Linked DNA regions of Homo sapiens. The protein of the gene in region 1 purifies or fractionates together with the protein of each later gene. This does not show direct contact. Each region holds a gene or a part of one and is shown on either strand. Other genes may lie near its edges.

Region 1 (3,227 bases):
TACAAATGTATCAAAACAAAATTGCTAGTGCTTTTTTTTACTAAAGAAACAGAATTAAAGAACTTTAGAATTTTAGATAGTAGCTCCATCATTTAAAAAAATGCTACCCTTATATAAAACTGCTTAATTTCATTGTCTGAACCTGTTTCTTTATGGTTAAATAAGTTTCCTAAAAAGCACTTTTCATTTTTTTACATAATGGGAAAACCAGGTATAAAATTACAAGAAAAACAGATTTTGAACCTCTCTCCTCAACTTTTTAAAATGGAAAATGTATCTCCTGAGGGCTTTCTTGATTTATTCTAGGATTAAAAAAATTCATTCTTAACAACAATAACAACAATAATAAAGTTCCTACTCCTTGGAATTTATTCACTAAATAAGCAACACCTTTTAAAATCTACTCCATTAGAACTCTACCCCACAACCTCCCCACCATATATATGCAAGTCCATATAAATCCAAATCTCAAAAAGCTGATATACAAACCACTCAGAACATTTTTCGTGAAATATCTGTTTTAATTCAGCAGTAAAAGGCAGCACATGATCAGAAATATGTAGGGTTGTGAAAGAGCTTGCCAGGAAATGAGAGCTGTTGCACAGGGTATCAGCAACTGTGTACAGCTTGGCAAGGTTTTCAGTCCTGTCCTCCAGGGAGGATCTTGACTTCTCAGTTCCCACTTCAGGAATACATGGTCAACTGCAGCCATTCTTTGATAGACACTTGAATCAGGCCATCTCTATCTCTATCCAGAGACTTGAAGGCACGAAACATGGCATCCAGGCGGACCAAGCAGCTGATGAAATTGTTAAAATCCATATCTCCATCTTCATTAGCATACCGGCGGACAATCATTTGGTAAAGTTGTTCATTTAGCTGGAAGCCTGCGGCCTGCAGAGCTCCCCGCAGCTGAGAACTTCCCAGAGACCCAGAATGGTCCCTGTCATACTGCTTATAAACACACTGCCATTTCTTGATGTTGTTCCACAGATACTTAAATTCTTCAAAGCCCAGCTTACCAGTCGTGTCACTGTCCATGACAGACACAATGCTCCGGCAGGTGTCAAGACTAAAACCGTCAGTCTTAAGATCTTTGTGCTTAGAAAGGACTTTGTTGAGAATATTCATCAGATCAGTGGCACCCACCTCCATGTCTGGTCCAGCCAGCTGTGTAAATTGTTGCCGAAATCGCCTAACTTCCTCACTTTCTGAGGCCTCCACACTGGTGAAATGCTGCTGAGTGGGAGGCGGTTCTGGAGTATACTGAGCTGCTGCAGCCTCACTGATAAAATTCACAATTCCTCCAACTATCCCTCCAATATTTCTTCCTCCTCCTTCTCTTCTCTGACCACCTCCTCCAAAGAGGCCTCCAAGAGCTTCTCCAAGACCTCGATCTGCTCCTTCCAATAGAGCCTTTGCAAGAAACATGCTTTCAGTTTAACAAGCAAATGCGGCAGCAATCTTAGAGATGGTATGAAAAAAGATGAAATGGAGTTCAAGTAGTTTACATGTGGAAGAACTGGCTTTTCTTTACCTGCTTACACTGCACCACGCCCCATGATGTGATGTTTCACATCCTACTGAAGATACCTGAGTTCCATGAGGTCCTAGCACCTGCCATATTTTACAAGGCCTCAATAAAATTGTTTTCACTCTTCCAGATACTTATAAATTATAGTATGTAGGACACCTTAGGATAATAGTTTTAAAGAAAAAATATTAAAGTATGCATTTTTATGTCATTGATTTCTTAGTCCTCTGTCTCAGCACCTAAAAAATGATGTGCATTTTCCTAACAGGAAAAAGGTAAATGATGCAAGGAAATCAAAAATTTATTCTCTAAGAAATATTTATTGTTAGAATAGAATTGAAGAAATCTTGGGCATTGGAAGAATATTTAATCCTCTTCCTTTAGCAAAGATTCTCAAAATCCAGTAGTCTTAAGAAAAATTTAGAAGGGAGATTTTTAAAATGCAAGGTCCTGAATTTCCACTCCCAGAGATTCTGATTCCATAGGGCTGCTGTGGTGTCTGTGATCGACATTGCTAAAATCTTTTTTGAAATGTAACATTCATGTAAAAAATGTATCATATAAATCACAAATGGATAGCTCAAAGAATTTCACAGACTGCACACATCTCAGAGGCCTCTTCATACTTCTTTCTAGTTACTTCCGTCTTCCAAGGATAACCACTGTCCTGACATCTAACACCATAGATTTATTTTTGCACCTTAAATAAATTAAATCAGACAGTACAGACTCTTTCATTTATTCCTTTTTCATTATAAAAATGTTAAATGTTTTAAAATTGTGATAAAATACACATGCCATAAAATATACTATTTTAACCATTTTTAAGTATAGAGTTCAGTGGCATTAAGTATATTTGCATTGTGAAACCATCACCACCAGCTATCTTCAGAACTTTTTTCATCTGGCAAAACTGAAACTGTACCCATTAAAGAATAACTCCCATTCTCCCCTTCCCCCACCCCTGGTAACCATCTCTCTATTTTCTAGCTCTATGATTTGACTACTCTGCATGCCTTATATAAGTGGAATCATACAGTATTTGTTCTTTTGTGACTTGCTTATTTCAATGAGCATAATTTCTTCAAGATTCATCCATGTTGTATCATGTGTCAGAATTCCCTTCCTTTCTAATGATGAATAATATTGTATTGCATTAATATACTCATTTTGTTTTTCCATTATCCCATTGGTGAATACTTGGGTTGCCCTTTTGGCTATTGGGAATAATGCTGCTATGAACATGGGTATACAAATATTTGTTTGAGTCTTTGCTTTCAATTCTTTTGGGTATATACCAAGAAGTGGAATTGCTGAATCATATGATAATTCTATTTTTATCTTTTTAAGGAACTACCATACGCTTTTCCTTATTGACTGTACCACTTACATCCCCACCAGCAATACACAAGAGTTCCAATTACTCCATATGCTTGCAAACACTTGTTATTTTCTCTTTTGTTTTGTTTTCTAATAATAGCCATCCTAATGGCTGTAAAGTGGTATAACATTGTAGTTTTGATTTGCATTACCCTAATGATTAATGATGTTGAGCATCTTTTAATGTATTAATACTTACTGACCAAAGAAGATCTTTGGAAAAATGTCTATTTAAATCTTTTGGCCATTTTAAAATCTGGTTATTTGTTGGGTTTCTTGTTGTTGAGTTGCAGGAGTTCTTTAAATATTCTAG
Region 2 (3,831 bases), on another chromosome or scaffold:
TATGTCTGTTGCAAATATTTTTGTCTAGCCTATGGCGTGTCTTTTTTTTTTTTTTTTTGAGATGGAGTCTCATCCATGTTGCCCAGGCTGGAGTGCAATGGCATGATCCCAGCTAACTGCAACCACTGCCTCCCGGGTTCAAGCAGTTCTCCTGCCTCAGCCTCCTGAGTAGCTGGGATTACAGCCATGCGCCAACATTCCTGACTAATTTTTTTGTATTTTTAGTAGAGACAGGGTTTCACCATGTTGGCTAGGCTGGTCTTGAACTCCTGACCTCAGATGATCCGCCTGCCTCGGCCTCCCAAAGTGCTGGGATTACAGGTGTGAGCCACCATGCCTGGCTGGCATGTCTTTTTTTTAATACCAAGGAAAATATAATTTTAGGAATTAGGAATAGGGATAAACTGAGGGTGGTAAATATCGAGAAATCAAAACAAGTTCTAGTCCATTATACTTAAATCTTGAGGATGGAAAATAAGTGTGTGACCCAGTGGACCGTGTCCCAGTGTCAATCTTAGCACAACAACAAATGTTTGCTAACTCAATGTTATAATGCAGCTGCCAAAAGACAATTTCCATCCCCGATACTAATTTTTAGTTGCTGTGTTGATGTTGATACTGACATCATCCTGTTTCTATGCAAATGACAGAACACTAGATACTCTTTTTTTTGAGATGGAGTCTCGCTCTGTCGCCCAAACTGGAGTGCAGTGGTGCGATCTCAGCTCGCTGCAACCTCTGCCTCCTGGGTTCAAGTGATTCTCCTGCCTCAGCTTCCCAAGTAGCTGGGATTACAGGCGTGTACCACCATGCCCAGCTAATTTTTGTATTTTTAGTAAGGACAGGGTTTCACCATGTTGGCCAGGCTGGTCTTGAATGCCTGACTTCAAGAAATCTGCCTGCCTCGGCCTCCCAAAGTGCTGGGATTACAGATGTGAGCCACTGCGCCTGGCCTCACTAGGTATTCTTTTGTACTTCATGACCATGGCCTTATTTGCTCTCCTACCCACTGAGTATGAATTTTTACAGATATCATGATCACATACTGAAACTTCTGGTCCAGTATACGTTGTATTTTCTTCTTCAGTTTCTTCAGGTCCTCCTAAAGTATCTATTAAGTCATCCAAAGCAGCATCCATGCCTGACTGGAAAAGAAAGAACAGATATTTAAATGTTATTTGTTATACATATTTCACCTTTAGTTTAACTACAAAAAAAGCCATTCTGTGTAGAAAAACCACCAAACACCAAAAGTTCTTCAAATAGTTCCCCAAAATAGTTAAAATCTGGTCTTTAACAGACTTTACTATTTAAGTCTCAAAGTACAAATTCTAGGTTGGAAAGATGAAAAGCCACATTCAGGCAAGAAGCACAGTTTCAACAAGTCTACAGGCATTACATACATGAACAAATGTACAAGTTCATTAAAGCTGCCAGTCCGATGCACTGACAGTTAAAAAAGGAAAAACAAAACAAAACAAAACAAAATACAGGGAATTATAACCATGTTGCTCTAAGCGATAAGGGAAATGCTTGGTATTTATTGCTTATCAATACTTTTCCAGAGTTTTAAACAAAGAACCCCTAAAAATCTCTATATAGTACCTATTCCAAATAGAATCTATTTCATGAGGGAAATCACTCTGTATTATTTCATTCATGTTTTTTTTTGTTGTTGTTCACTTGCTTGCCTGAAGAGGTTTACAAAACAGAAATTACCTGAGACATTAAACTTACAAGAACTCACAAGTTTACTCTGCCAATATGGGCTTAAATCAGTATAACTGATATGGTTTGGCTCATGTCTCCACCCAAGTCTCAACTCCAATTGTAATCCCCATGTGTCAAGGGAGGGACCTATAATCCCCACGTGTCGAGGAAGGGAGGTGACTGGATCATTGGGGCGATTTTCATGCTGTTCTCATGATAGTGAGTGAGTTCTCATGAGATTGGATGGTTTTATAAGTGTTTGACTGTTCCTCCTTCACATGCTCTCTCTCCTGCTGCCTTGTGAAGAAAGTGTCTGATTCCCTTTCCAGCATGATTGTAAGTTTCCTGAGGCCTCCCCAGCCACACAGAAATGTGAGTCAATTAAACCTCTTTTCTTTATAAATTACCCAGTCTCAGGGAAGTTCTTTATAACAGTGTAAACATGGACTAATATAATAATAAATAAGAGTGCTTCTATCTATTTTTTATGTTGATGACTCGTTATGAACAATAACCTGCATTGAAAGGAGAAAACAACAATCTAGGAAAGGACCTTGTATTATTTGATTTAGATGAAAAATAATTATTTAAATTGTCTTTTTTTTTTGCAACTACCATATTCCCATGACAATTTTAGGACTCTCCTGATCATGGATATGTGAAATACAATCTGAAGGCTGTTAGGCTTACACTGATTCTTTTAGGAATTTCAGAAAAAAAGAAGTACCTTACTTCTTTAGTAATACCTCTGGTTAAATAAAGTGTATTTGCAGGAGAGAAACTGGAATGTAAACTCCATGGGATGAAACTGGAGTTTGTTTGTTTTTTTTTAAAAAAGGGGTTATAATAGCAAGTGTTACAAACATGAGTGTGAAAACCATACTTCCAACCCACACTTTCAATATTAGCTTGAAACAATAATTCATTAAAATGGTCCTTTAAATTACCCCCCTCATATTATTTGCCCACAAGAAATCAGATTATGATAAATACAGAGCATATGAGTAACTGTCTCATGTAGAAGGACACTGTTGTCTTCATACCTTTCCCGATGGTTTATCCGGTTTAGATTCAACTGGCACAGCTGGGGTTAATGATTTCTTTTCTTTTTTCTGGTGAGAATTGAGAAATTAACAACTCCTCACATACCTTAATAAAACTCAATACTATTACAAATTTTAAAATAAATTCATTATATTAACAAGCATTGATCATACACTGAACATCCGCTCTACAGCAGAAACTGTGCTGTGTGTTTTATATCCTTTTTCAGAAGGGCTTTAATTATATTAGTCTCATTTAGTGATGGGCAAAGCAAGGCTCAGATTAGGCCACTTTCCTCAGGTTACACAGTAAGGGACAGAATGAAGATTTGAATCCAAGACTGTTTCTTTCCTCGCTGTTCTTCTCCAGGGCCCACAGCCAGTTTTTACAACATCCATGAATTCTTTCTATAGGCTGCCACTTCTGGCTTTGCTCTCTGGCTCTTTGCCCCCACACATCAAGACTTCCATATCCCTCACTTCGGCATCTCAACACCTCCTCTTTCCTTAAAATGAGTTGATCGCTCATCATTGCTTCCATTGCTCTATCAAAGACTGCAAACAACTTTTCAATCTGCAGTTTCCATGCTTTTATCCAGATGTAATCTCTGAAATTTGACCCTTGGAGCATCTCTCCCTCCCCATTGCCACCTTTCGGCACCATTCTGATCCTATTGTGGCATCTATGCCCTTTGTTCTCCATTACCTCTGGCATCTCTTTTACTTTGGTCCCCACTGTATACACTCTGCACATTTCTGCCCTGTGCTGGTGGTCTTATCCAAAATCATTCTCTATGGCCAGAGGCAAATGCTTTCAGAGACTGGCAGAAACTAAATGGGTGAAGTTGTTGGGTTTAAGATAAAAGGGGACCATTTCCCATTTGAAGGTATCCAAACTCAGGGAACAAAGCACAGGAAGAGCACAGGCTCTGACTGCCAAGGTTTGCATAACAGTTGAGACATGCATGGCTGCTTGAGGCTTTAGCAAGTCACTTCTCCTTGGAGATATTAGATAAGTGAATCTATACGAAGTATGAAAACCATTGTTTGGCACATGCTCAGCACTATGTAAGTACTT

The links.
Region 2: the proteins of CAPNS2 (region 1) and CAST purify together in Homo sapiens (affinity purification with mass spectrometry; 4 studies listed by BioGRID and IntAct, with this or other methods). This does not show direct contact.

The regions. Positions count from the first base shown.
Region 1 is NC_000016.10:55,564,961-55,568,187, reverse strand, and holds CAPNS2 (calpain small subunit 2), read right to left. Parts: upstream 1,505-3,227; 5' UTR 1,432-1,504; coding exon 685-1,431; 3' UTR 501-684; downstream 1-500. UniProt on the Homo sapiens protein: Calcium-regulated non-lysosomal thiol-protease which catalyzes limited proteolysis of substrates involved in cytoskeletal remodeling and signal transduction.
Region 2 is NC_000005.10:96,735,163-96,738,993, reverse strand, and holds part of CAST (calpastatin), read right to left. Parts: intron 2,823-3,831; coding exon 2,754-2,822; intron 1,146-2,753; coding exon 1,047-1,145; intron 1-1,046.